2 linked regions of the Homo sapiens genome follow. The protein of the gene in region 1 binds, or shares a complex with, the protein of each later gene. Each region holds a gene or a part of one and is shown on either strand. Other genes may lie near its edges.

Evidence for each region.
Region 2: the proteins of PPARA (region 1) and CREBBP are in contact, whole or in part, in a crystal structure (PDB 9IWL), measured with the Homo sapiens proteins. Residues at the interface, in NP_001001928.1 of Homo sapiens: Val284, Thr285, Thr288, Glu289, Lys292, Phe297, Leu302, Asn303, Gln305, Val306, Thr307, Leu309, Lys310, His457, Pro458, Leu459, Glu462, Ile463; in NP_004371.2 of Homo sapiens: Asp62, Ala63, Ala64, Lys66, His67, Lys68, Gln69, Leu70, Ser71, Leu73, Leu74, Arg75.

The regions. Positions count from the first base shown.
Region 1 is NC_000022.11:46,213,757-46,229,056, reverse strand, and holds part of PPARA (peroxisome proliferator-activated receptor alpha), read right to left. Parts: intron 13,885-15,300; coding exon 13,724-13,884; intron 10,795-13,723; coding exon 10,656-10,794; coding exon of another isoform or gene 10,652-10,655; intron 9,246-10,651; coding exon 9,043-9,245; intron 1-9,042. UniProt on the Homo sapiens protein: Ligand-activated transcription factor. Key regulator of lipid metabolism. Activated by the endogenous ligand 1-palmitoyl-2-oleoyl-sn-glycerol-3-phosphocholine (16:0/18:1-GPC). Activated by oleylethanolamide, a naturally occurring lipid that regulates satiety.
Region 2 is NC_000016.10:3,761,862-3,777,161, forward strand, and holds part of CREBBP (CREB-binding protein), read right to left. Parts: intron 12,833-15,300; coding exon 12,708-12,832; intron 12,070-12,707; coding exon 11,890-12,069; intron 9,126-11,889; coding exon 8,709-9,125; intron 7,493-8,708; coding exon 7,313-7,492; intron 6,049-7,312; coding exon 5,859-6,048; intron 1-5,858. UniProt on the Homo sapiens protein: Acetylates histones, giving a specific tag for transcriptional activation. Mediates acetylation of histone H3 at 'Lys-18' and 'Lys-27' (H3K18ac and H3K27ac, respectively).

The sequences.
Region 1 (15,300 bases):
TGGCTCACAGCAAGCTCCGCCTCCCGGGTTCATGCCATTCTCCTGCCTCAGCCTCCCCAGTAGCTGGGACTACAGGCGCCCGCCACCATGCCCAGCTCATTTTTTTTTGTATTTTTAGTAGAGACGGGGTTTCACCGTGTTAGCCAGGATGGTCTCGATCTCCTGACCTCGTGATCCGCCCACCTCAGCCTCCCAAAGTGCTGGGATTACAGGCGTGAGCCACCACGCCCAGCCAATAATTTTTTTAAAAAATGAGTTCTGTTTTAAAAAAATAAGAAACACTGAGTTGAATGAAGTTGGGCCTCCCTAGCTGAGTCTTTAACATGATAAATGTGCAGTCTTCCAGAATGAGAATGAGGCTAGGATAAGCAGGGGTTCCTACAGTGTTTGATTACAGAATGCTTGGTGTTATTTATTGTTTTTTGGTAGAGCATCTCCCAGGACAAATGCAGGCCTGGCTACGTAATTTACAGGACCCAGAGCAAAAATGCAAATGTGGGACCCCTTGGTTTTTCTTTTTTGAGACGGAGTCTCGCTCTGTTGCCCAGGCTGGAGTGCAGTGGCGTGATCTCGACTCACTGCAACCTCCACCTCCCAGGTTTGAGTGATTCTCCTGCCTCAGCCTCCTGAGTAGCTGGGATTACAGGCACCCACCAACCACGCCTGGTTAATTTCTGTATTTTTAGTAGAGATGGGGTTTCACCATGTTGGTCAGGCTGGTCTCAAACTCCCGACCTCAGGTGATCCACCCGCTTCAGCCTCCCAGAGTGTTGGGATTACAGGCGTGAGCCACCACACACTGCGGGACCCCTTGTTCAAAGATGATTATGAATTTCAAGAAGGCAACAGCGGAGCATGAACACCCAAGCCTGGGCCTTTCTAGGCTGGGGGCATCGTTAAACAGCTTGCATGCCCCTGAGGCTCACCGTGGACTAGTTCTATGGGGATGTACTCTCGTAAATGAGGACTTCTGTGGTAACAAATATCTCATTTCATTTTTATAAAATTATCACTTTGGTTTTAGAAAGTGGGCCTCATTTAGCAGGGAGAACTGGAGACCACTGAATTCAAAATGAGTGGTACCATGAAGAAACCAATGTTTATTAAAGCTAAAGAGAAATGCTGTTGAAAAACACACTTGCAAATTCGCTAAACTTTATGGATAAACATTCTTGGTGAGATCATTTTACAAAAAAATCTATGCAGCAGCTTATATTTAACTTTGGAATATGCCTTTTATACTCAAGCTTGACTATGAATATATCTGACACGACAGGCAGTCATTTCAAATAAATGAAATAAAGCACATTATAAAGGTTTTAAACAGCGTGAGGCAGGAAGCTGCCTAGATTTTCCCCAATCACTCCATGCCGAGAGCAGAACGCCCCGCTTGCTGCCACACTGGTCCCGGCACACACTCATGTGGCCTACGAAGCTCAATGATATCACTCATGAGAATTCATCTCTGTTAGCAGCTGTCATCTTTTTGCAAAAAATTAAATGTGGACCAGGCGCAGTAGCTCATGCCCGCAATGCCAGCACTTTGGGAGGCCAAGGTAGGTGGATGACCTGAGGTCAGGATTTCGAGACCAGCCCGGCCAACATGGCAAAAGCCCGTGTCTACTAAAAATACAAAAATTAGTCGGGTGTGGTGGCTGGCACCTGTAATCCCAGCTACTTAGGAGGCTGAGGCAGGAGAATCGCTTGAACCCAGGAGGGGGAGGTTGCAGTGAGCTGAGATTGCGCCACTGCACTCCAGCCTGGGCAAGAGAGTGAGACTCAGTCTCAAAAATAAATAAATAAATAAAAAATAAATGTGAAGCACTGGTAGAACTGCTTTGGATGAAATTATTTAATAAGCTCTCTTGGTTATGTTTTACTATACATTTGTAGAAATGGCATAAAATATGAAGCACATTTTTTAATCTAAAGAAAACTTAAGTAGTAGGTATAATATTGGACTGTCACACGGCAGGCAACACCCCAAGACATGGTATAAGGTCATAGCTGTTGAAAGGAGCAGTCCTGTTATAACACGGCACCCTGGAGGTCACCCTTATGCCCAGGCTTCTGAAATGTTAAGAATAATGTTGGAATTCCTCTTTCAAAACTGGTCTTAAAAACCATGTTCAGCTGCATGTCACAAATTAGTCTCCTTGCTCAACTTTTTTTTTCTTTTTTCTGTTTTCTTTTTTTGAGACGGGGTCTTGCTGTGTCACCCAGGCTGGAGTACAGTGGCGCAACCACAGTCCACTGCAGTCTTGACCTCCATCCTCCTGCCTCGGCCTCCTGAGCGGCTGGAACCACAGGCGCACACCACCATGCCCAGCTAACTTTTCATAGAGGAGGTCTCACTATGTTGCCCAAGCCGGCCTTTCTTATTTTTTTAAACAAGACGTTTTACTCTGTTTAATCCCAACTTGCATGCCAGTCTAGCTACAATGGACTCATGGTTTGTCTAAAATTCAGTTCTATTCTCAGAGGGTAAAATCTTCCATAACTGAAGCTATTCAAAGACTTTAAGATAATCCCCAACAATTTGGAGCAATAGGAGAATCTTTGAAAAAATAACACGGCACGCCCAATTCCTACTTTCTTCATTTGAACTGAGTGTCAGTTCTGATATGTTTGTTAGATTAAAAAGTAGCAGGACAACGTTATTATCACCTTATAGTTTGAATTTCTAAAGTCCACATATTCAGTGCTAAAGAATTATTTGGTTGTTTAACTGAACACCACACTCATTTTTTGGAAGGTGCAGTTTGCTTCTTAAGCCCAAAGCAGCTAAGCCTGAGCAACAGTAAGTGTGTGTGTGAGCATGTGTGTGCACGTGTGTGTGAGCATATGTGCACACATGTGAGTGTGGGTATGCGTGTGAGCATGTGTATATATATATATGTGTGCATGCTTGTATATGTGTGGGTACGTGTGTGGGTACATGTGTGCATAAGGTGAGGGTATGTGTGTGCATATACATGCATGTGAGCATGTATAAGCACATGTGTAGTTTGTAAGTGTGTGTGTGTATGCATCTGTGTGAATGCATGTGTTTGTATGTGTGTGTATGCATGTGTGTGACTGTATGGGTGAATGTGGATTTGTGTGTGCCTGGGTGCATGTGTGTGAGCATGCATGTGTGTGTGTACACACAGGTGTGGGTACATGTGTGAGTGTGCGTGTATCCATGTGTGGGTGCATGTGTGTGTGTGCGTGTGTGGGGGTGGAGGTGCGTCTGTGTGCATGTGTGGGTGCACGTGTATGTGTGGGGGTGTGTGTGTTTACACGTGCATGCATGGATGTGTGAGTGTGTACCCATGTGAGCATGGATGCTTGTGTGCGTGTGGGTGCATGTGTGTGTCCATGTGCATGTATGGGGGTGGAGGTGCATCTGTGTACACGTGTGGGTGCATGTGTATGTGTGGGTGTGTTTGTGTACACATGCATGCATGGATGTGTGACTGTGGGTGCATGTGTGTGAGCATGCATGTGGGTGCACGTGTATGTGTGTGTACCCGTGTGTGCACGGATGTGTGAGTGTGGGTATGTGCGTGCATTTGTGCATGAGCGTGCATCACACAGAAGGCACTGACTCTGCCCAAGCCCCTCAGTCTCATTTTCTGTTGCTTCCTCCAAAGTCTTCTGACGACATTCTCAACCCCTGACAGGTCAACATCTTATGTTTTTAGACACTGTTGAAAAGCACCCATTTTTATTGCCTCCCTCAGCCCCCTGACTCTGCTTCCATCCCTGTTACCCTCAAATCAAGGGGCAGTGAGTTCCCCAGAGGCGCCCTTCCCCATCACCAAGGGCCCTGACCATTTTCTGGCCCACGGTTCTGAAATCTCAGGGGCTCAAACAGTCCCAGTGTCCAGATGGACACAGACATTCTCCATCCACCCCTCACTCCTTCCCTCAGCTAAAGCCCACCTTTCCTCAAGCAATGGCATCTATGCGGCTCCATGCAGCGGCCTCCCCCTGCCCCCACAGCCTCCTCCGTGCACCCTGGCCGGTTCCAACCCCGACCCAAGCCTCCTGGCTGATTCTAGGCCTCCCACAACTCCCCCACCGGTTTCAGGCCCCCCCCCAGCATTCTAGCCTGTTCCAGCTCAGCCATGGGGCTTTGCGTCATCTGATCTGAAGGCCACGAGCTGATCTTGACAGAAGAAAGGCATTGGCCACTGCAAAGAGAAATTCAGTCCCCCGCTTATAGCAAACCAGAGGGCTGCTTTGAAATTAAAATCTATCCATCCCCCGTGCTTCCCCATCAAGGCTTTGAACATTTCAGGGTTGCTTTCACCCCAGCAGCCCCTGCAGGGAGGAGGCGAGCCTGCCTTCCCCAGCACACAGCCCACGTTCATTACGGTTCGTATGAATCCATTAGTTTACTGGCCTGGACAGTTTACTGTGCCGCCTCTCATCCCCAAACAGAAATGAAGTCAGCCGCCGGCCCTGAGGTCAGTGTGCCTTCCTGAGGCTCTGTGGGGCGTGGCTGGGGCTGTGAGGTCACCCAGGCTGGAAACTGATGAAACGGCGACCGCATGTGGGCCACTGGGCAGAGATCAAGGTGTTTCCAGGCCGCTGCTTGGTCTCCCTAACAGATTTCTTGCCCACAGATGGGGTTGCTTTCTGAGATGTGTAAGGGACACAGGCTATGGTCTTCCACTACCCACCTTGGCCACAAAACCAGAGCTCTGCCAATAGATTCAGGCAGTGTGGCCTGGTGGTGGGCATCCTGCCAACGGGGCCTTTTCCCAGACTAAGCAGAGAGGGTATCCTGCACCTGAAGGAGCCAGCTCTGGAAAGCCCGTCAGCAGGCTAGGCAGGGAGGAGGGGGCCGTGCCTCCAGCGTCCCGTGCGCAGACAAGGACATGGGGTGGGACGCAACCCTGGCTTGGAGCAAACAGTGTGATCAAACACAAAGAGTCACATGATGGTTGGAGGTTGCCTTGAAAACTGGTACCTGCGGTGCTCTGGCTTTGTGGGTGTGGGTGGAAGAGGGCATCTGACTCTCGGAAGAGTGCCCGGTTCTCTTTTTCTACAGAAAACCAAATTGTGAACCCCAATCCTAAACTATTCATCTATCATTTCTTTCTTTTTTTTTTTTTTTGAGATGGAGTCTCACTCTGTCACCCAGGCTGGAGTGCACCGGTGTGATCTCGGCTCCCTGCAACCTCCACCTCCCAGGTTCACGCCATTCTCCTGCCTCAGCCTCCCGAATAGATGGGACTACAGGCGCACACTGCCATGCCCGGCTAATTTTTTGTATTTTAGTAGAGATGGGGTTTTACCATGTTGCCCAGGCTGGTCTCGAACTCCTGAGCTCAGGTAATCCGCCCTCCTCTGCCTCCCACAGTGCTGGGATTACAGGCATAAGCATGAGCAACCACGCCTGGCCCTCTTTTTTTTTTTTTTTTGAGATGGAGTCTCGCTCTGTCACCCAGGCTGGAGTGCAGTGGTGTGATCTCGGCTCACTGCAACCTCTGCCTTCCAGGTTCAAGCAATTCTCCTGCCTCAGCCTCCTGGGTAGTTGGGATTACAGGTGCCCACGACCATGCCTAGCTAATTTTTGTATTTTTAGTAGAGACGGGGTTTCACCATATTGGTCAGGCTGGTCTCCAACTCCTGACCTCAGGTGATCCACCTGCCTCAGCCTCCCAAAGTGCTGGGATTACAGGCATGAGCCACCGCGCCTGGCCTATTATTTATTTCTTTAAGGCCAAAATGCAAACAGATTCCCGCCTGCTAGTTGCTGCATGTGACCCTCAGCTGAGGGTGATGGGGTTCCTAGAGCTTGGTGGTCTCCAAGGGGAGGTGCAGGAGGACTCCAGGAGTCCCATTCGCACCCCATGGTGGGGGCAGGTTGTTAGGAAGAAAGACAACTTAACTCTGCTTCGAATTTTTTTTAGAGAGTCTCGCTTTGTCGCCTAGGCTGGAGTGCAGTGGCGCGATCGTGGCTCGCTGCAGCCTTGAACTCCTGGCCTCAAGGCATCCTCCTCAACCTCCCAAGTCGCGGGGACTATAGGCATGTGCCACCATGCCTGGATAATGTTTTTATTTTTTGTAGAGATGTGGTCTTGCCATGTTGCCCAGGTTGGTTTTGAACTCCTGGGCTCAAGCCATCCTCCCATCTCAGCTTCCCAAGTACCTGGGACCACAGGCACATGCCACCATGCCCAGCTAGTTTTTTAAAAAATCATTTTTTGTAGAGACGAGGTCTCCTTGTGTTGCCTGGTCTCAAACTCTTGGATTGCCTCAAGTGATCCTCCCGCCTCAGCCTCCCAAAGTGCTGGGATTACAGTGTGAGCCACTGTGCCCAGCCTGCTTTCAATTCTGAAATCCAAGGGAGAAATATAAGCTGGCAAACAAAAGTTTTAGCCATCCCAATTTTGGGCTGTACTAATCATATCCAGGATAGAGACTCGAAGCTAAAAGTTACCTTTTCTTTCACTCTCGTAATCCAGGAAAGTTCTAATTGGGACAAGCCTCTGGAGCTGCCTAGTGTGGGTGTCTGCTGGAAACTTCTAAAATGTCTCGGCCTATTTAATTGGAGAATTCACTGAAGAATTAAAGGACTCAGTAAAGAAGAGGTTTGGTTTGTTCATGAAAGTAAGTAGCTTGTGAAATGCTTTATTTTCCTGTGACTAAAATTCCACCTTGTAATTCCCAATAAGGATTGCTTCAAGCTATTTAATACAAATTAAACCTGTTTCACCATGCTCATAGGAAAATGTCAAAGTATCTTCATTCACCAACTGAGGGCTGGCTCTTCTTTGAAGGTAGCTCTGAGATTTGTTTTGTAATGGAGACAAAGACTTATTTAACTGTTGGGGAGGGGGAAGGAGGACTTAGGCCAGGCAGGCGGGGATGTGGGGGACGAACCATGAGGGGCAATTTGGCTGCCTCTGAAAAGGTCCAGAGCTACCTTAAAAGACAGGCTTTCTATAACAAGTGGTCCTTTCTTTTCCTTTCTTTTTTTTTTTGAGACAGAGTCTCACTCTGTTGCCCAAGCTGGAGTGCAGTGGTGCGATCTCAGCTCACTGCAACCTCCAGCTCCCAGGTTCAAGCAATTCTCCTGCCTCAGCCTCCCAAGTAGCTGGGATTACAGGCAACCGCTACCATGCCCAGCTAATTTTTTGTATTTTTAATAGAGATGGGGTTTCACCATGTTGGCCAGGGTGGTCTCAAACTCCTGACCTCAAGTGATCCACCCACCTCAGCCTCCCAAAGTGCTGGGATTACAGACATGAGCCACCGCGCCCAGACACAGCTGGCTTTGTCGCCCAGGCTGGAAGTGCAGTGGCACGATCTCGGCTCACTGCAAGCTCTGCCTCCTGGGTTCACGCCATTCTCCTGCCTCAGCTTCCCAAGTAGCTGAGACTACAGGCGCCCGCCACCACGCCCGGCTAATTTTTTGTATTTTTAGTGGAGATGGTGTTTCACCATGTTAGCCAGGATGGTCTTGATCTCCTGACCTCGTGATCCGCCTGTCTTGGCCTCCCAAAGTGCTGGGATGACAGGCGTGAGCCACCACGCCTGGCTTACAAGTGGCCCTTTCTAAGCCCCAAGATGTCACTGTCTTTTCACTGAAGGCGGAAAAAGAATGTAGGCATGTTTGTCTGAGAGGGAGGGAGTAGTTTTAGGAGAAAGGACCAAGAGCACATTTTGAGTGGGAAGTAAGTGGTTTCCTTTTCTAGCCTTATGATATGGTTTGGCTCTGTGTCCCCACCCAAATCTCATGGTGAACTGTAATCCCCAGTGGTGGAGGTGAGGCCTGGCGGGAGGGACTGGATCATGGGGGTGATCCTTCATGAATGGTTTAGCACCATCCTCTTGGTGCTACTCTAGTGATAGCGTTCTCACAAGATCTGATGGGTGAAAAGTGTGTGTCTCTTGTTTTTGCTCCTGCCATGCAAGACGCCTACTCCCACTTCACCTTCTGCTATGAGTCAAATTCCCTGAGGCCTCCCCAGAAGCAGAAGCTTCCTGTACAGCCTTGTGGGCCACGAGCCAATTAAACCTCTTTTCTTTATAAATTACCAGGTCTCAGGGATTTCTTTATAGCAGACTAATACACCTCAAAGTAGGGATTTATTTTATTATTCTATTTTTTTTTTGAGATAGGGTCTCGATCTGTCACCCAGGCTGGAGTGCAGTGGCATGATCTCAGCTTGCTGTAACCTCTGCCTCCCGGGTTGAAGCAATTCTCATGCCTAAGCCACCCAAGTAGCTGGAATTACAGGTGTGTGCCACCCTGCTCAGCTAATTTTTGTATCTTTAGTAGAGTTGGGGTTTCTCCATGTTGGCCAGGCTGGTATCAAACTCCTGGACTCAAGCAATCTGCCCACCTTGGCCTCCCCAGAGTGCCAGGATTACAGGCATGACCCATCTTGCCTGGTCAGTTTTTTTTTTTTTAAATCCAGTTAATGCTGGGTGCCATGACTCACACCTGTAATGCCAGTGCTTTGGGAGGCCGAGGTGGGAAGATCACTTGAGGCCAGGAGTTTGAGACCAGCCTGGGAAACATCTCATCTCTACCAAAAAACAAAAACAAAACAAAACAACAACAACATCAAACATAGCCAGGTGTGGTGGTGCACACCTGTAGTCCCAGCTCCTTGGGAGGCTGAGGCAGGAGGATTGCTTGAGCCCAGGAGTTCAAGGCTGCAGTGAACTATGATTGCACCACTGCATTCCAGCCTGGGCAACAGAGCAAGAACCTATCTCTATTTAAGAAAAAATGCTCCTAAGAAATCATCTTAGTACTTGGTAAGCTATTAAGGTTTTTTTTAAGTGTATTAATTACATAGCCAGTATAATAACTTAGTTGCTAAGAGCTTTGAGGTGGCTCCAAGCAAGAAGAAAGGAGTTGTTGTTAAGCTACAGCTCAGAGTCTCAGAATGAACTGTTTCCATCTTCGCTGTCCTTTGCTTAACTGTGGGATAAATATAATTTTCTCAACATTCAACACATGTGTCCTTAATCGTCCTCTACGACACTGGTTCCATGTTGCCAAGAGAACCCAGAACAGCCGCAAACACCTACTGGATTGTTACTGGCCTTTCCTGAGAGGATGACCCGGGCTTTGACCTTGTTCATGTTGAAGTTCTTCAAGTAGGCCTCGTAGATTCTCTTGGCCAGAGATTTGAGATCTGCAGTTTCAGAATCTTCTATGTCATGTTCACAGGTAAGAATTTCTGCTTTCAGTTTTGCTTTCTCAGATCTTGGCATTCGTCCAAAACGAATCGCTAGGGTTTGGAGGGGGAAACACAGGCATGAGCAGTGAGGTCATGACTGCGCGGACAGGGCTGGACGAGGGGCTCCCCCAGGACTTTAAACCAGGAATGAAAATTCACAGGCAGTTCAGACCCATCCTTCATTACTATTCGGCTTTCCACTATGGAGAGATGAAAAACTCAAACTCCATACACTGTAGATGTTTAAACAGGTGCAGGCTGAAGGTGACACCATCGTTAACAGGTGCAGGCTGAAGGTGACACCATCGTTCGTCTCATTAGTAGGGTGCACACCACTATCAGGTGCATCATCAACCTTTGAGTGAAGGAGGTGAACGGGGCTTCGGGATGAGTTTATATAATAACTGCTTCTTTTTCCAGAAGGTAGACATGCAACTCTTATGAACGACTTACATTCACATCACAATTAGCATGTTCTGAAACTATTAAATGATTGGCTAGAAGGAAATTCATAACGTGGTGAGATGTTTGAGGTGGTACACCCTTCCTATGGACGAGGTGAACATTCTGTCATTTTGGTGCCTTCCACTTGGTTTTTCGATTCTGTATCAAAGTCTTACCACTGAAGTTTCTAACAGCGAGTCCAATGCACCACTGAATCTCAGCTATTTGAGACTTTTTCTTTTTTTTTCTTTTTTTTTGAGACGGAGTCGCACTCTGTCGCCCAGGCTGGAGTGCAGTGGTGCGATCTCAGCTCACTGCAACCTCCGCCTCCCGGGTTCAAGCTATTCTCCTGTCTCATCCTCCCAAGTAGCTGGGATTACAGGTGTGCACTACCATGCCCAGCTAATTTTTGTATTTTTATTAGAGACGGGGTTTTGCCATGTTCGCCAGGCTGGTCTCAAACTCCTGACCTCAAGTGATCCACCCGCCTCGGCCTCCAAAGTGCTGGGATTACAGGTGTGAACCACCGCACCTGGGAGACTTTTATTTTCTTTCTTTCTTTCTTTTTCTTTTTTTTTTTTTTGTGAGACGGAATCTCCCTCTGTCGCCCAGGCTGGAGTGCAGTGGCGCAATCTCAGCTCACTGCAACCTCCGCCTCCCGGGTTCAAGCGATTCTTCTGCCTCAGCCTCCCGAGTAGCTGGGACTACAGGCATGTGCCACCACACCCAGCTAATTTTTGCATTCTTAGTAGAGACGGGGTTTCACCATATTGGCCAGGCTGGTCTCAAACTCCTGACCTGAGGTGATCCACCCACCTCAGCCTCCCAAAGTGCTGGGATTACAGGCGTGAACCACCGCGCCTGGGCGACTTTTATTTTCTTAGGCCACTCTGATTACAAAATGACTTGGGTGTGAAATGTTGAAGCACATTCATCCATAGCTTGATCTGTTCCCTTGGAGCAAGGAAGGGGAACTGAGGAACGAACTGGGAAAATGTGCAGGGCCACCTTACCTACCGTTGTGTGACATCCCGACAGAAAGGCACTTGTGAAATCGACAATACTGGCATTTGTTTCTGTTCTTTTTCTGGATCTTGCAGCTGCGGTCGCACTTGTCATACACCAGCTTGAGTCGAATCGTTCGCCGAAAGAAGCCCTGTGAGGGTAATACACAGTGGATTTAAAGACCTGGGCCACTGAGAAACCAGCGCACTTGCTTTACTCACCTTTTTTGTTGCTCATTTATTGTTTCTTTTTAAATGAACAAAATTTAGAGAAAAGTTATTCCAGGCCAGGCATGGTGATCATGCCTGTAATCCCAGCACTTTAGGAGGCTGAGGCGGGTGGATCACCTGAGGTCAGGAGTTCGAGACCAGCCTAGCCAACATGGTGCAACCCTGTCTCTACTAAAAATACAAAAATTAGCCGGGCATGGTGATGTAAGTCTGTAGTCCCAGCTACTCAGGAGGCTGAGGTAGGACAATCACTTGAACCCAGGAGGCGGAGGTTGCAGTGAGCTGAGATTGTGCCACTGCACTCCAGCCTGCGCGACAGAGTGAGACTCCATCTCAAAAAAAAAAAAAAAAAAAAAAAAAAAAAGAAAGAAATAGTTCTTCTAAGAAGTCTGGAATGATTAGGACAAATACAGAACTTTAAATGTCGTTACATTTAATGTGAAAAACAATAAAATGAGGCAGCATTCGAAGTCATTTCAAAATGCCCTCATCTGACTTGGGAAAACACAATTATAGTTTTCCAAAGAGTTACTCAGCCTTGTTACAATGTATATGAATGTAACTATCCCCAGCATTGTGACATTTCCATATTTGTGACTAAAGACTTTCTAAGAATTTTTGTAAGAGTATATTAACTCCCTCAAAGACAAAAATTATAATAAAAGGAAGCCAGCTGTTTGTAAACAATTTTCTTGCTTTGTAAAAGCATCTTAAACTCTACCCAGCAAGAAACAATGTTACTAAATAGTCCATAAAAAACAAAACTAAATGAATAATTAATCATGGCCCTAAGGAAAAGGCCACTTTATAAGGAGCTTTTTCAAAGGTATATGGTTAGAAAACATGCGAAGGAGTTCATTTTTGCTTTGGGTTCTTTTTTCTCTTTGCTTTTAAGTCATTCTTCTATATTTTTGCCACAGTGGGTCTGCTTGGCCCGCGGGAGAGGGACAGCAGTGTGCAGGGGAATGTGAGAGGCAGGCTGACGTCTTCATAATGTCCTTACCTAGGCTTGCACAGTGGGGAGGCTGAGGAACGCATGGGGTTAGAATGGGAAGGGTGGGGAGACAGGCTTCTAGACAGCAGAGTGCCACAGTGTCCTGGCTGTGAGGTTCTCCCTGTGGCCCAGGCCTCTGAGGCCAGGCCTGGCTCAGGGCAGAATGCTGGTGTTCCAAGATGGTACATTGTGCCAGAAAGGCGGTGGCATTTTCCAAGTTAGTGAACACCTGCAGCGTGCACCGTGAGAAGGGATTTCTGATTCAAACCAAACATTCAGATGATGATCTCCCACATATCACGTACATAAGGCGCCAGACTTGAGCACGTCTGTGCAACCCTAAAGGGACGCTGCTACAGGAGCTCTCCTCATCACCACGCTGACAAACACGGAAGGGCCACCAGTCCAGCTGGCAGCATGCAGGACAACAGGGCCTGCCTTCATGCACTCCTGGCCCAGGTCACATCTGTTTAGGGCAGGCTGAGCCAGCAGGAGGATGAAGATGCACAGGGGGTTCCTGTCGCTTGAATCAGGTGGAGAAGCCCCTGATGTGCAGGAAGGAACTGCTGGGGAGCAGGAGCAGCCAGTCTCTGGTTCCAGTCCCTGCTGCTGGGGGCTGTGGGACCCTAAGCAAGATACTCTGTGTCTCTGATGGCCAATTTCCCTGGCAGGAGCATGAGAACACCTGCCCCACCTGGCCTTCAGGGAGGCTCCAGAGATCAACGGTAACAGCTCTCTGTCTTGTATTCGAATGAAGTGATGTTCTTAATGTGGCTTATTTTCTTTTCTCTCTTTTTTTTTTTTTTGAGATGAAGTTTTACTCTTGTCGCCTAGGCTGGAGTGAAATGGCTCGATCTCAGCTCACTGCAACCTCCGCCTCCTGAGTTCAAGCAATTCTCCTGCTTCAGCCTCCCAAGTAGCTGGGATTACAGGCACCCACCACCACACCTGGCTAATTTTTGTATTTTTAGTAGAGACAGGGTTTCACCATGTTGGCCAGGCTGGTCTTGAACTCCTGACCTCAGGTGATCCAGCCGCCTCGGCCTCCCAAAGTGCTGAGATTATAGGCGTGAGCCACTGCACCCGGTCCAATGTGACTTATTTTCTTTTAAAGAATGCACTTCTCTAAGTATTTACAAAGCACAGAGGAACCATTTGTCCTAGACTCTCTAAAGCAGCAATCCCCAACCTTTTTGCCACCAGGGACCGGTTTCATGGAAGACAATTTTTCCACAGATGGGGGTGGGGAGGGATAGTTTCAGGATGAAAGTGTTCCACCTTGGAACATCAAGTATTAGATTCTCATAAGGGGCGTACAAGCTAGATTCCTCAAATACGCAGTTCACAACAGGGCTTACGCTCTCAGGGGTTCTGTGCTATAAAGAGAGGCTAATCTATCACTGAGGTCAGTTTCTTTTTCTTTTTCTTTTTTTCTTTCTTTTTTTTTAAGATGGAGTCTCACTCTTGTTGCCCAGGCTGGAGTGCAGTGGCGCAATCTTGGCTCACTGCAACCTCTGGCTCCTGGGTTCAAGCAATTCTCCTGTCTTTGCCTCTCGAGTAGCTGGGCTTACAGGCGCCCACCACCACGCCTGGCTAATTTTTTTTGGTATTTTTAGTAGAGACAGGGTTTCATCATGTTGGCCAGGCTGGTATCGAACTCCTGATCTCAGGTGATCCACCCATCTCGGTCTCCCAAAGTGCTGGAATTATAGGCATGAGATACCGCGCCTGGCCTGAAGTCAGTTTCTTATCCGGGACTTTCTGCAATCTCTCAGTAATGACTGCCATTTGCTATAAAAGTGACCATAAGTAGTTGATGGTGGCGGCCACCAGGCCCTGTTCCAGCTCCCCTCTACCTTGCAGCCTTCACACGCGTGGACTCCGTAATGATAGCCTGAGGCCTTGTCCCCGCAGATTCTACATTCGATGTTCAATGCTCCACTGGGAGACTCGTCCACGCTGCCGGGGACCACAGGATAAGTCACCGAGGAGGGGCTCGAAGCTGGTGAAAGCGTGTCTGGGGAAAAAGAGGAGAGACGGATGAATAGTCCAGGCATCACTATCCTGTGTCTGAACCGGGTCTATGAGGATGTGATTTCGCATACGAGGCTTCTAGTGCTGAGGCATAAACCTCAGAACACCCATGCGGGGCCGGGCCCTGCCTCTGGGTCACACCCTCTTGCACTCCTACAGCTGCCATTGTGCTGTGCTCCCAAAGCCAGCATGCTCGCTCTCACTGCTGCTGAGCTGACCCCGAGCTCCGGACCCACACACCTCAGATCACACATCCCTGGACCCGCACATCTCCGCCCCGCATATCTCCGGGCCCGCGCGTCTCCCATCCACACATCCCGCCCCGCACATCTCCTCATTCCCACATCTTCGATCTGAGCATCTCCGATCCACACATCTCCGCCCCGCGCATCTCCGGACCTGCACATCTCCCATCCACACATCTTCAGATTTGCACATCTTTGGACCCGCACATCTCTGGACCCACGCATCTCCGGACCCGCGCGTCTCCGGACCCGTGGATCCCCGGACCTGGGCATCTCCGATCAGCTCATCTTTGCTCTGCTCTGCACATCTCCAGACCCGCACATCTCCGGACCCCCACATCTCTGGACCCCCGCATCTCCTGACCCCCCAACATCTCCTGATCCACACATCTCCGCTCTGCACATTTCCGGACCCGCGCATCTCCGATTCGCCCATCTCCTGATCTGCGCATCTCCGGACCCACGCATCTCCTAGCCCTCCACATCTCCGATCCGCACATCTCGGGACTGGCACTTCTCCTGATCCGCACATTTCCTCCGGACCCCCACATTTCCGATCTGCACCTCTGGGTACGCGCACATCTCCGGACCCACACATCGGACCCGCACATCTCGGGCCCGCACATCTCCGCTGCACACATCTCCAGACCTGCACATCTATGGGCCCGCGCCTTGCCATACCGCCCATACCTCACCCTGCAGGACTCCCCATGCCCCCGCACTGACAGTGCCACGCAGAACTCGTTTTGTTTGCTTCCTTTCTTCCAGTTCTTCCGCAATTGTTAACTCAGTAAATGGCACCAGAATACAGTATAAAAATCTGTGTGGGCAACACCAAATGCACAATCCATGAAAGAGAAAATATAAGTTGGAATCTATGAAAGCTAATGAAACCTTCTGCTCTGCAAAAGACATTGCTAAGAAAATTAAAGACAAGCCACAGACTGGGAGAAAATATTTTCAATACACATGTGGTAATATACAAAGAGGTCTTAAAACAAACAACTCAATTGAAAAATGGGGGCTAGGCGTGGTGGCTCACGCCTGTAATCCCAGCACTTTGGGAGGCCGGAGCAAGCGGATCACGAGGTCAGGACATCAAGACCATCCTGGCTAACACGGTGAAACTCCGTCTCTACTAAAAACACAAAAAA
Region 2 (15,300 bases), on another chromosome or scaffold:
ACAATTATGTAACAAATAGCCTTTTGATTTCTCTGAATGAGGGGTTGGCAAATTATGACCAAGAGGCCAAATGTGGCCAGCTGCTTGCTTTTCTGTATGGCCCAAGAGCTAACAATGGATTTCACATTGTTTAATGTTTGGCAGAAGAAAAAGAAAAGAATACTATTTCATGACATGTGAAAATCACACAAAATTCAAGTGTTAGTCTCCAAAAATACAGCTTTATTGGCACATAGCTGTGCTCATTCGTTTATATAGGATCTGTAGCTGCCTCCGTGCCACAGTGGCAGCACTGAGGAGTGGTAACAGAGGCCTCAGGACGCACAAAGCCCACAGCGTGGATCACTGGGCCTCTGCACGGAGAAGGCCTGCAGACCCTGTCACCGCCCCAGTGGTAATCGGGAGTGACAGGGCCTGAAACAAGTGTCACTTTGGTTGATCATTTATTCATTCATTAAATAACTATTCAAATTCCGTGCTGAGGAGAGCATTTTCTTTCCTTTTTTTTTTTTTTTTTTTTGAGATGGAGTCTCGCGCTGTCACCCAGGCTGGAGTGCAGTGGTGCAATCTCGGCCCCCAAAGTGCTGGGATTACAGGCGTGAGCCACGGTGCCTGGCCGAGGAGAGCATTTTCAGACTCCTGTCTTCACCAGCACCTTTCTGTAAGAAGATCCCATATGTGCAGAAGTGAAGTCAGGAGTGTATGTGAACTGCGCCGCTCCCCTCCTCTGGCCCGAGGACCTGCTCCACGCGGCAGGGCTGTTGCAGCGCACCAGCATCTCCCAAAAACGCGGCTCTCGAGCCCTTGGAGGCTGCTGTCTCATATCGCAGTCCCCAGCCCCTGTGACTACTGAAATTTTACCAAACGAATAATATTACAAAAAATAAAAAACTCAGTTCCTCGGTCACCCTGGTCACATTTTTATTTTTTTGAGACGGAGTCTTGCTCTGTCGCCCAGGCTGGAGTGCAGTGGCGCGATCTCGGCTCACTGCAAGCTCCGCCTCCCAGGTTCATGCCATTCTCCTGCCTCAGCCTCCCGAGTCGCTGGGACTACAGGCGCCTGTCACCATGGCCGGCTAATTTTTTGTACTTTTAGTAGAGACAGGGTTTCACTGTATTAGCCAGGATGGTCTCGATCTCCCGACCTCGTGATCCGCCCGCCTCGGCCTCCCAAAGTGCTGTGATTATAGGGGTGAGCCACCACGCCCGGCCACCCTGGTCACATTTTAGGTGCTCAAGTTATAGCACTGCCCTAGGCCCTTCTATGTGCTGTAAGATGAAAACTATTTCACCAAAACTGAAACCAATTTTTTTTTTTTTTTTGAGACGAGGTCTTCTGGAGTGCAGTAGCGTAATCACAGCCCACTGCATGCAAACTTGACCTCCTAGGCTCAAGCAACCCTCCTAATTCAGCCTCATGAGTAGCATGAGGGACTATAAGCATGCACCACCATAACCAGCTATTTTCTTATTTTTTTCTACAGAGACAGGGTCTCACCATGTTGCCCAGGCTGGTCTTGAACTCTGGGCCTCAAGTGATCTTCCCACCTCAGCCTCCAAAAGTGCTGGAGTTGCAGGTGTGAACCCCAAAGCCCAGCCTGAAACAATTTTGTTTTGAGACGAAGTTTCTCTCTTGTTGCCCAGGCTGGAGTGCAATGGCACGATCTCAGCTCACTGCAACCTCTGCCGCCTCCTGGGTTCAAGTGATTCTTCTGCCTCAGCCTCCTGAGTAGTTGGGATTACAGGCATGCGCCACCAGGCCCGACTAATTTTTGTATTTTTAGTAGAGACGGGGTTTCGCCATGTTGGCCAGGCTGGTCTGGAACTCCTGACCTCAGGTGATCCACCCGCCTCAGCTTCCCAAAGTGTTGGGATTACAGGTGTGAGCCACTGCGCCCGGCCTGAAACAATTTTTATAACACTAAATTATCATTTGCCTTTTGCACTATGTTGGACATCTGCACAGATGGGAAAAAAGCAATCTTTTTTTTTTTTTTTTTTGAGAAGGAGTCTCACTCTGTTGCCCAGGCTGGAGTGCAGTGGCATAATCTCGGCTCACTGCAGCCTCCACCTCCTGGGTTCAAGTGATTCTCCTGCCTCAGCCTTCCGAGTAGCTGGGACTACAGGCGCATGCTGCCACACCCAGCTAAAAAGCAAAAACAAAGGAAAAGAAAGCCAACATCACCAAACTCTACTGTTATCACACACACTGCTGCTGCTGTACAGTCACAAGAAAAAAAATACCAGCCATGCTTAAGAAAATTTGTTTAAAATTTTTCTTCTTTTTTTTGGGTAGAGATGGGTTCTTGCTATGTTGCCCAGGCTGGCTTGAACTCCTGGCCTCAAGTATTCCTCCTGCCTTAGCCTCCCAAAGTCCTTGGATTATAGGCATGAGCCACTGCTCCCAGCCAAGAAAAAATATTCTTTATTTTTAAGACAGGGTCTCACTCTCTCATCCAGGCTAGAACGCACTGGCACAATCATGGTTCACTACAGCCTCAACCTCCTGGGCTCAAGCAATCTTCCCACCTCAGCCTCCTGAGCCATTGGGACTACAGGTGCACCACCACACCTGGCTAATTTTTAAACTGTTTTGTAGAGACAGGGTCTCACTACGTTGCCCAGGCTGGTCTTGAACGCCTGGCCATAAGTAATCCTCCTGTGTTCGCCTCCCAAAGTGCTGGGATTATAGGTGGGAGCCACTGTGTCCACTCATTTCTTAATTAATTAATTTATTTTTGAGATAGGGCCTTGCTCTGTTGTCCAGGCTGGAGTCCAACAGTGGCATCACAGCTTGCTGCAGCCTTGGACCCCTGAGCTCAAGTGATCCTGCTGCCTCAGCCTCCTGAGTAGCCAGGACTACAGGCATGCACCACCACACTTGGCTGATTTTTAATTTTTTGTAGAGACAGGGTCTTACTATGTTGCCCAGGCTAGTCTTGAACTCCTGGCTTCAAGTGATCCTCCCACTTTGGCCTTCCAAAGTGCTGAGATTACAGATGTGAGCCACCACACCTGGCTGAAAAAATATTCTTGATGAGATAGTAAAAAGTATTCCTTGTATTAAATCTTAAGCGTTTGGTACATGTGTGTGGTTTTTTTTTTTGTTTTGTTTTTGTTTTTGTTTTTGTTTTTTGAGACGGCGTCTCGCTCTGTCTCCCAGGCTGGAGTGCAGTATCTCGGCTCACTACAAGCTCTGCCTCCTGGGTTCACACCATTCTCCTGCCTCAGCCTCCCGAGCAGCTGGGACTACAGGCGCCCGCCACCACGCCCGCATAATTTTTTGTATTTTGTTTAGTAGAGACGGGGTTTCACCGTATTAGCCAGGATGGTCCTGATCTGCTGACCTCGTGATCTGCCTGCCTTGGCCTCCGAAAGTGCGGGGATTACAGGTGTGAGGCACCGCGTCTGGCCGCCTGGTACATGTCTTTTATTCTGTGTGATGAAACATTCTGCCTATCTCCTCACACAGAATAAAAGATGTGCGCTGCATAGGCACAGTGGCCACATCAGGAGGCAGTACTTGGGCAAGTGTTGGAATTTACAGCTGAAGTAGCTGCTTGCCCTCGTGGAGCACATTAAAACTTTCAGGAATGACTGAGAGATAAGCTATAGTTACTAAGCTCTGGTTATATGTCAGACATTTTCTCAGAAATGAACAAAGAGGGCCAGTTACTTCAAGGACAACTGACAGTATTTGTTGCCAATGCTAAAATTTGGGCTTTCATAAAAAAATCAAATGCTTTGGAAAACTTGTACATGGGCTTCACAGCTTCTCAAAATTTATTATTAGTATTATTTTTTGAGACAGGGCCTCACTCTGTCACTTAGGCTGGAGTACAGTGACATGATCAAGGCTCAGTGCATCTTTGACCTCCCAGGCTCAGGTGATTCTCCCACCTCAACCTCTCGAGTAGCTGCAGCTACAGGCATGCACTACCATACCCAGCTAATTTTTTTTTAATAGAGATTAGGTTTCGCCATGTTGCCTAGGCTGCTCTCGAACTCCTGAGCTCCAGGCTAGAGTGCAGTGGTGCAATCATAGACCCTGAATTCCTGGGCTCAAGCAATCCTTCCCCCTCAGCCTCCCAAAATGCTGAGATTACGGGTGTGAGCCACCATGCACGCCCTGCTTTTCTAAGTTGGTAAGACTTGTTTGAAGAGACTGATGGTGGTATTAACAAATGTTGATTTTTTTTTGACACTGTATAGTGAAATATGTCAACATATGGAAAATCTGCAGAACTTAAGTGTCAATTGAAAAAAAAATCATGCAAGCACAAAAGATCCATTCCAAGTACAAGATGGATCAATGGATTCTAATGTCACAGACTATGAAAAATCCAGTGCTATAGATTCTGGTTCAATGTCGCAACTAACCTTTAAGAAACCTTCACTGGCTGAATTTTGGTATAGTATCAAAGAATATCCACAATCAGCTGAAAGGGCTACGAAAATACTTCTCCCTTTACCAACTACAGGATTTTCTTCATACACTTCAACCAAAATAACCAATCACAACACAGTAAATGCAGAGGCAGATACCCTTAATAACGCCACTATTCTTACTTATTTTTGTTTTGGAAAAATTGTTTTTCATATAAATGTTTTCTATGGGTGCCATGTAACAGACTATTTTAAATGAACTAAATATTTAAAAATTTTTCTCTTTTTTTTTTTCAGACAACAATCTCACTTTTGTCTCCCAGGCTAGAGTGCAGTGATGTGATCTGGGCTCACTGCAGCCTCAAACTCCTAGGCTCAGGCAATCCTGCCGCTTCCGCTTCTCGAGCAGCTAGAATTATAGGCGTGCACCACCACACTTAGCTAGTTTTATTTTAGTTTTGTAGAGATGGAGCCTTGCTATGTTGCTCAGGCTGGTTTTGAACTCCCAGCATCAAGCAAGCCTCCCATCTCAGCCTCCCAAAGTGCTGGGATTACAGGTGTAAGCCACTGTACTCAAATTTCTCAACTTTAGTTTCCAGTAGAGTAAGCAATGATAGATAATCCACACAACAACTCTCTGGGGCCCTCAATTTCTAAGAGTATAAAGAGCCCTGAGATTCACTGTACTCCACACTCTCCAGGGTCCCTTCCAGCTGCAGAGTAACATGGTCTCAGTCTCTAACATTTCTCTGCAATCTTTCCCAAAAGTGTCATCTGCAGCCTTGGACTTTCTGAGTCCTGTCTCCCATTTCTAAGGTTCACTTGACAATTTTCTGATACCCTGTTATCTCTTTACTGTGGATACATCTCAAATGGATTCCATCCAACTTCCACTGTGAGGCGGGCTTACCTCACACATCTCAGACCCCAAAGATGCCTAACCTACCCCTCCCCCATGTCTCACTACACAGGGTCCCTAGGCGCCACCCTGCCCCTCACTCTGCATGCTCAGCTTCCTCACTGCACCTGCAGAAACCTTCTGCCTCCAAGTCACCCTGTGCTGTCATAATGACCATCTTCCTTAAATTATGGCTTTTTTGGTTATTCTCCTACTCACATACATCACTGGTTCTTTATACTTTTATGAGTAAAGCCAAGCTCCTTAACCTGCTCAAGGACCCAGACACATTTCAACTCGGCCCCTGCCAGCACCATCAGAAGACAGCTCTGCAGCCTGGGTGCCCTCGGAGCAGCAGCTCATCTCTCACTCCTGCCATGAGCCCCACAGGCACAGGGCAGGGGTCCTGCTCAGCCTGAGTGTTTCTGCAGGGGAAAGTCTGGGGAATGGCAGGCAAGAAAGGTAAAAGGGCAGATAGAATTATGTTTCTACTTTAGCTTTTAATCCTCCACATGGAATCCTAACACCGTGGAAAAGCAGCATGCTTTAATAAGGTAATGAATAAATGGCCTACTTTTTTTGCGCGGCTGCGAAGGAGATGTTGACTGAGAGGCTGTGCCGTTACTGCTACTCTCTTCTTCCTCTTTAACTTCTACTTTCACTTCAGGTTTCTTTTCATCCACTTCCATTGGTTCTGATTTCTGCTCTGCTATGTCTGTTTCTTCTTTAACTTGGGAAGCTCCTTGCAAATCCTCCTCCATCATCTTGAGAAAAACATTACAGATAACATATGAATATCAAACACCTTTATGTTACCGCAACCTCACGGGAAGACTCTTACAAGCCTAAAACAGGTTTGTTAAAACCTTCCTCTAGTCAGAGTTGCATTTATGATTCCTCTTCTCTTCCGGAAGAAGAAATAAAGTACTTGGTGTTCATTAAGTCGCTTCAGCACAGAGTCAGTGCAATTATGGTCCTAAATTTAAAAGTGTTTTTTTTTTTTTTTTTTTTTTTTTTTTTTTTTGAGACAGAGTCTAACACCCAGGCTGGAGTGCAATGGCAAGATCTTGGCTCACTGCAACCTCCCCCTCCTGGGTTCTAGCAATTCTCCTGCCTCAGCCTCCCGAGTAGCTGGGATTACACGTGTGTGCCACCACACTCGGCTAATTTTTTATATTCTTGGTAGATATGGGGTTTCATCATGTTGGCGAGGCTGGTCTCGAACTCCTGACCTCAAGTGATCCACCTGCCTCGGCCTCCCAAAGTGCTGGGATTACAGGTGTGAGCCACAGCTCCCAGCCTAATTTAAAAGTTTTTAAATGTAAAACTGCTTTAAAAATTGCACATACTCAGATTTTTCACTACAGATATTTCTAATTTGGAATAAAAATCTCCTTGAAAGTTGGGGCAGGGACCAAAAGTCCTTCTCAGAGGCAGGTGTGGTATGAGACAGGAAGGAGCAGTGGGGACTGTGGCTAATTGGAGAGCCCACTACAGTTGGTGCTCACAACCAGACTGCTGTCACACAGGGATGCAGGCACAATGCTGAAAGCATCTCATTTTTCAAGAAAAGCCAGAAATCTAGAGTTTTATTTGCAATTTCCTGATTTTTAAGGTATTGTGTGGGCCAAACACATTTAGAGGCTGGATCCAGCCCACGGTCTGCCAGCTTTCAGCTTCTGCCATAGGTTAATTAGTAAATGAATCCACCACCCCTTCTGTAGTCTACCTCTGCAGAACTAGAAATGAATGGAGAACATAAAATAAAAGGCTGTTGGATGATTCAAGTATTTCAAATATAAGCCAGTATTCTTCATTTCGGGCAAAATAAACCCACCCCTCATATTTAAAAATGAAAAACCAAGCTGTTTTCAATCAATTTCCTATACACCAAACCCCGAACCCACATTCAAACAGAATATTTTAACTAAAGTCAGGGATACCCATGGCAGGCTCCAAGCCTCGCCCGAGGACACCTGGGTAAAGTTGCGATACGCAGTCAATGCATTCCTAGGGAGCGGCACCCACCTCAGACCTGGGCTCCCCTTTGGATTCACCAGGATCGGGCTCAGTGTCCTCTGCTTGGGTCTCCGTCTTCATTTCCAGCACAGGTACGTCAGGTCCTGGCTGCTGGGAATTGGTTTCTGCGCTGGCCACCGAGGAGGGGGTAGGGACTCTGTTATCAATGCTGGCTGCTGCCTGGGAAAGCTGTGAAAAAACCGAAAGCACTGACTTCAGTAAGCAAGGTAACATAAATGATCTTCAACTATGCTGCTCATGCAACCTACAATTTCCCATTAACATTTCTCAATACTGATCCAGCAGGTGCCCTTCTGTGAAACCGAAGAACAGGGGTTAAAGTAGGAATGAGTTCTAGAGGGAGGTAACAGCAGCCAGAGGTACAACTCAGGTCTTGCCACAAAGGCAGAGGAAACAGCAGAGCTTTTCAAACTTTGACATAAATTTATTTTCTCGAAGTTTTCTAGCTAAATCATGAAATCTCATATTTTGAAATTAATTCCCTTCAATATGGTGGTTAATGTGTATGGTAAAAGGCTGAATTATGAATGCCTAAGCACATCTGAAGGGAGGGAAATCAAGTGCCTACCCAAAGACAGTGTTACCCAGCCTGTGTGAACGGTAGGAACACGGGTGCTGGTGGAGTAAATGAACATTACACGAAGGAACCACTAAAAGAATTCCTAATTTGCAAATTCTTACTCAATGGAATTTTTTTTTTTTTGAGACGGAGTCTCACTCTGTCACCTAGGCTGGAGTACAATGGCGCAATCTCGGCTCGATACAATTTCTGCCTCCCAGGCTCAAGCGATTCTCCCGCCTCAGCCTCCCGAGTAGCTGGGAATACAGGCACCAGCCATCATGCCCGGCTAATTTTTATATTTTTGTAGAGACAAGGTTTCACAACTTTGGCCAGGCTGGTCTCGAACTCCTGAGCTCCGGTGATCCGCCTGCCTCAGCCTCCCAAAGTAGTGGGATTACAGGCGTGAACCACCGCGCCCAGCCTCAATGGAGTTTTAAGTAAACAAACAAAAGATGACAATGTCTCGCTCTGTTGCCCAGGCTGGAGTACAGTGGCGTGATCTTGGCTCACTGTAACCTGTACCTCCTAGGCTCAAGTGATCTTCCCACCTAAGCCTTCTGAGTGGCTGGGACTACAGGACTACAGGCACACACCACCATGCTTGTCTGGTTAAAAAAAATTTTTTTTTGCTGGAGACGAGGTCTCACTATGTTGCCCAGGATGGTCTTGAACTCATGGGCTCAAGTGATTCTCCCACCTTGGCCTCCCAAGGTGCTGAAATTATAGGTGTGAACCACCGCGCCTGGCCTGACACACAATTTTTATGGGAAAATTATCTTCTAAGAGTCTTGGCCCAAAAACAGCAGAGACAGAGAGGCTTACCGGTGTGCCAGGAGGCTGGGCGTGCACAGGCGTCGGCTGTTGCTGCGATGACTGAGGGGTAGCCACAGACGGGGGCTGAACTGGGGTTTGAGGCTGCGGGGTCACCTGGGCCTGGGCTGCTGCCTGGACTGTAGGGGTGCTCTGGGTTTGGGTAGCACTGGGCACTGAGCCAGGAGTCGGGGTGGGAGTCTGCCCGGAAGACGACACAGGAGTTGATGGCTGAGTGGGAGCTGCTGGCTGGGGAGGAGTCATCCCAGGTGGTGTCGTGTGCTGGAGAGATGGCATGCCAGCAGCCGTGGAAGCAGGAGGCGGTGTTGGGTGCAGTGGTGACTGTGTCACTGGAGGGCAAGGTAGCTGGCTGGCCTGAGGCCCCAGCATGTTGAGAGGGTTAGGAAGAGCAGCACCAGGCACCTGTCCCTACCAGAAATGGACAGAGTATGGTAAAATTATTTCCCCCGTTTGAAAATGTGATGAAACATTTGAAAAATTAAATGTATGAAAAAAAAATTTTTTTTTTTGAGACAGTTTCACTCTTGTCGCCCAGGCTGCAATGCAATGGTGCGATCTCGGCTCACTGCAGCCTCCGCCTCCTGGGTTCAAGCAATTCTCCTGTCTCAGCTTCTCGAGTAGCAGGGATTACAGGTGCCCGTCACCACGCCCAGCTAATTTTTCTGTTTTTAGTAGAGATCGGGTTTTGCCATGTTGTCCAGGCTGGTCTCAAACTCCTGACCTCAAGTGATCCTCCCGCCTCGGCCTTCCAAAGTGCTGGGATTACAGGCGTGAGCCACCGCGCCCAGCCAAATGTATGGGAATTTAATCACATTTTCTTGGGAGTGTTCTGCTTGTGAAAATTCATCGAGCTATACACTTGTAATGGGCACTCCTCAATAACGGTAAAACTACACACGTTTCTTATAGTCTGATTTATATAATTAAAACAACCATTGAAACTTATGGCTTAAACACACACATCTACAGCAGTCCCCTCATATCCACTCGGATACATTCCAAGACCCCCAGTCTTGGAACGCCTGAAACTGCGGATAGTACTGAACCCAATATTTACCAAGATTTTTGGATCTGACAACCAAGGTGGACACTCAGTGACTAAGAGGTGGGTAGTGTCTACAGTGTGGAAATGCTGGACAAATAAATGATTCACATCCCTGGGGGCACAGAGTGGGATGGTGACAGAATTCATCATGCAACTTGGAATGGCACTCAATTTAAAACTTTTTTTTTTTTTTTTTAAAAAAAAAAAGACAGAGTCTCGCTCTGTCACCCAGTCTGGAGTGCAATGGCATGATCTTGGCTCACTGCAACCTCCATCTCCCGGGTTCCAGTGATTCTCCTGCCTCAGCCTCCTCAGTAGCTGGGATTACAGGCGTGCAATACCATGCCTAGCTAATTAATTTAAAATTTATGAATTGTTTATTCCCAGAATTTCCCATTTAATATTTTTGGACCACAGTTGACCCCAGGTAACTGAAACCTCAGAAAGTGAAATGACAGATTGGGGGAGCTACTGTACATTGACCCAGCCTATAAGCTTCATGTTCTATAACATGTACCCAATGTTCTTTAACATTTTCTAAGCTTAGCTTAGAAAAAGGTATTTTTTTTTTAAGTTGCTTCTTCCCTGGGGACTATAAAATAAATAAATAAAAATAAGAATAAAAGTTATTGACCATAAATATATACATCCATAAGTACCCTTAACAATTAAAAATTTAAAAAAAAAATTCTCTCTGAAACACAAACACACACACACACACACACACACACACACACACACACGTTAGTTACTGAAAGAGAACTGTTTCAGTGCAGTGGTTCTATACTGGGGATACACTTCAGAATTATTTGTGAACATTTTAAAAATGATTCTGAATCACTGTTCTAGAGCAGGGGTTGGCAATCTCCCAGGGCAAACACACTGAGCTGCTTGTTTCTGTAAATAAAGCTTTATTGGCACACAGCCACCTCATTTATGTACCACAGCAGCTTCTGCACTACAAGAACAGAAGTGATGAAAACCAAGATTGAATGGCCTGCAAAGCTGAAAATATTTAGTATCTGGCCCTTTACACGAAGTTTGCTAATCCTTGTTCTAGAGAAATGAAATGTTATGGAAAGTTAAGAATAATCATTTAGTGAGGAAATCTAATATATAATAATGACTTATGCAGCATTATTTCACATTAAAAACTCAAAACAAGGCTGGGTACGGTAGCTTACTCCTGTAATCCCAGCACTTTGGGAGGCCGAGGTGGGTGGATCACCTGAGGTCAGGAGATCGAGATCAGCCTGGCCAACATGGTGAAATCCCGTCTCTACTAAAAATACAAAAAAAAAAAAAAAAAAAAAAATTAGCTGGGTGTGGTGGCGGGCATCTGTAACCCCAGGTACTTGGCAGGCTTAGGCAGGAGAATCGCTTGAACCCGGGAGGCGGAGGTTGCAGAGCCGAGATTGTACCACTGCACTCCAGTCTGGGCAACAAAACGAGACCCTGTCTTAAAACAGACAAACAAACAAAAAAAAACTTAAAACAAGAATTTTATCTTTTAGGGAGGATTTGGTGTGTTTTAAATACATGTATATTTTGTATACAGTAGCAATGATACGCACTACAACTAACAAAAGAGGAAAAAAGGAAGGAATAAATGGAAAATCAATTTCTTCAGCTCTAGATTGAGAAATTAAAAACATTTAACAAGAAGGGAACTATTGAAATGATTCTGTTAGCTTGATTTCACCTGGCAGTGGAGACAGGTCAAAAGAAACAAAAGCCAAATCATCAAGAGTGAATTCATGGGTCCTTCTCACTCGCTTTTTAAAATCCTAATGCCTCTCAGGGTCACGTTAAAGTTAGAATTTAAAATACACAAACAAAAAATAAGAAAACAAAAACTCAAAGATCAAAACACAAAAGCATACAAACCAAAAATTCTAAATCCATTCCCACTTTTGCATATAGTTAACCCAGAAAGGATAAGAGAAATTCCAAACGAGTTAAGGACTACAGGACAAAGGTGGAGAAAACAAAGAGAAGCTGATACAAAGACATGAAATGTGCATTCTGGAATTTTAATTTCCACGAAGGAAGACAGAAAAAAAAAACCAAAACTTAACACAAGAATTTTATTTCCTAGGGAGCCACGGTCCCAGTGGGGCACAGTACCTGTGACACGCCTGTTTGGGCTGGCGGCTGCCCCATGCCCACACTCATCGCCCCGCTGGATGACGGGAACTGGTTCTGTGGCAGAAACTGGCTCTGAGCGGGCGCCTGGGCCATCATGTTGTTGGTGTGTGCACCCATCATGTTCGGAGGCTGAGGCATTCGGGAAGGAGAAATGGCCATCTACGAGACAACAAGCACCACCAGAGCTGTAGTTCGGAAGCTGACGGCCAGAGTTTTCAAGGTGAGCCAGAATGATCCAAGGCTTCACAACCCCAGAGGATGGCAAGCACAGGGCTCACATCCTGCCCTTCCTCATGGGAAGAGACCACCACTTGCTAAGAACTCCCGCGCTCCTGGGCACCTTACACACTTTCTCAGGCAATCTCTCAAATGAGCCAGCTTCAAAATGTCCTCTGAATAGAAATCAATAGCAGGCTATAATTTAAAGTTTAAGACATGCCTATGAGTTCTCTAAAGTGTTTAGAAAGCAGCCTCGGAACAGCGAGCTCTCAGTCAACAGATGCTGACAATTCCCTGCTGGCCACATATCTGAGGCTGCCTTCTCCAGCCTTGGAACTCCCACATTCTCACAAAGCCACACATTCCTATGAATTTGTTATTCCAATAAAATAACTAACAGTCAAATAATTCTGTGTAGTAATAATTTTTTTAAAATGAGAGATGAAAGAAATAAAGCATAACCCAAATTCAAAGGAACAAGAACCACAGGATTCTCAAGTGACATGAATTCTGCTGCTTAGATAATGTTCCATGTGAGAGGGAGGGCTATCTGCAGCACAGCGAAAGAGAACACTTACCCCTGGCACTGAGCCCATGCTGTTCATCTGGACAGAGTGGTTCATTGGGGAGGCTGCACGAGGTCCCATGGGTGCTTGTGGCAACTGGACGTTCCCCAAGGACATGGGGTTAAATGAATTCATCCCTGTAAATGTACCCACAACGGTTCATTAGGAAAAGCACCCACAGGAAAACAGAATTACAACTTGCTAAATAAACTCTTAAGTAAAATAAGATGGAACGCACAGGCAACAGAAAACTGAAAAGAAATCACCCAATTAATCAATGAAGATGATGAAGGAACAGACTTCTCCATATCCAGAGAAAACGGCATCAATGTGGGGGTGGTGACGGTGGCATGGTGAGGGGTACCAGGGAAGGACGAGGACATGAAGGCATAAGGTTGGGTAAGACAGGAACAAGTGAGACATTAAACGAGGCTGTGGTAGAGCTGAGCCAGAGGGCACAGTACCAAAGTGTCATAGCAACAAAGAGGGTGAGGAGGTGCCCTGAAAGGACAGCACCCTCACAAGCTACAGAAGAGATGTTTCCAGAGACCAGGGCAAGCTTCTGTGCACACCCATACCTAATGCCTCTGGAGCAGCTGACGCCCATCATCCGAGGATTCCCAGCTCCTTGCTGGGTTTACATTCATTGTTAGAATCTGTGCTAAGTCTCCAAATGTTCTTTTAATTTTGCAAGCACCTTAAGCATTAAGAAGTGCCCAAGGGTCAGCCGTCCTCAACCTTAGCCTCCTGTAGTTTACAGGAACACCACATCACTGAAAGACACTTCACAGCCAGTAAGTGTCTCCAGACTGCGGTGTCTAGTTCCTTCCAATTTCCAATAATACTCTGTAAACTCTGAGTTCTAAAGAAGCACCAGTTCAAATTAGTCTTAGGACCAACACTAGAATCTGACAGAACCCTTTAGAGAATTTCTGGAAGGTGCTGCCTTAGCGCTGCTGTAGTCATGAGAAGGCTCAAAGGATGACTCACGGAGCACTACCTTCAATGGCTACCTAGAAATGGTACCCTCAAATAACGGAGTGCCGATGCAGACCAGGAAGACTTTCCAGGGAGTCTATAATGTAAGCTTCCCCACTCCTTGAGAATTTTTTTAAACAAAATGAAAAACAATTACTAAGGAACAGCACTTAAAGAAATCTGTATTTACCCAGATGTGCTGGTAGGGAGGTTGCTAAGTGCATAACTAGAAAACATCTATTCCAATATTCTGCTGGTAAACAGCAGGGGCATCATACCCCACACCAGCAGCATCTTCCTATCCAGGCTGAAGTCCTGGACCAATCCCCAACACAGCATCCAGCCACTTTCCCAAGGCTCAATTTCTCTGACTCCTTGATTTCTTTCTTTTTTTTTTTTGAGATGAGATTTCGCTCTTGTTGCCCAGGCTGGAGTGCAGTGGTGTGATCTCAACTCACTGCAGCCTCCGCCTCCTGGGTTCAAGCAATTCTCCTGCCTCAGCCTCCCGCGTAGCTGGGATTACAGGTGTGCACCACCATGCCTGGCTAAATTTTGTATTTTTAATAGAGACGGGGGTTTCACCATGTTGGCTAGGCTGGTCTCAAACTCCTGACCTCAAGTGATCCTCCTGCTTCGGCCTCCCAAAGTGCTGGGATTACAGGTGTGAGCCACTGTGCCCAGCCTGACTCCTTGATTTCTTTCAAAAATCAAAGCCTGAGCAAAGCCTCTTTCCTTAGAGTCTTCTGGATAATGTCACCACCTTGTTTCACAACCTGGAAAAATGTCCTCCTGCTTGGGTCTCAATGGTCAAGAGCTACAGGGTTTTCAAATGCTCCCTGCCCCAAAATAAAAATCACTGCTTCAACCAACCAAAAACCAGAGGCTCTCTACTTAAGAACCTTTCAAGGTTGTTGAGACAGCTGCTGACACCCCAACCTGGCACAGGACCTGTGTGTACACTCTCTCCAGAAGTTGACATCCAGCCAGCTGGGCTTAACCCCTAGGGCCAAGAGCAGCCCGTGCCGTCCCCATTTCAGCCTCTGCAAGTGCTCAGCAGTCTAGGACTGTCTTGCATGCTTCTCCTTCTCAGCATTCAGAAGCACTCCCTCCCCACATCTAGGGTGCTTCTTTCTCGGACTCTTCCTAAGAGTAACGTACCACACCCCCTTCACCATCCATTAAAAAAATAAAAAGCTGGCCGGGTGCAGTGGCTCATGCCTGTAATCCCAGCACTTTGGAAGGCCAAGGTGGGCAGATCACAAGTTCACGCGATTGAGACCATCCTGGCTAACATGGTGAAACCCCATCTCTACTAAAAAAAAAGATACAAAAAATTAGCTGGGCGTGGTGGCAGGTGCCTGTAGTCTCAGCTACTATGGAGGCTGAGGCAGGAGAATGGCATGAACCCGGGAGGCGGAGCTTGCAGTGAGCCCAGATCGTGCCACTGCACTCCAGCCTGGGCAACAAAGTAAGGCTCTGTCTCAAAAAAATAAAAGAAAAGAAAATAAAGTAAAATAAAAAGCTAAGGCCGGGTGCAGTGGCTCACTCCTGTAATCCCAGCACTTTGGGAGGCTGAGGTGGACGGATCACGGAGATCAAGACCATCCTGGCTAACACGGTGAAACCC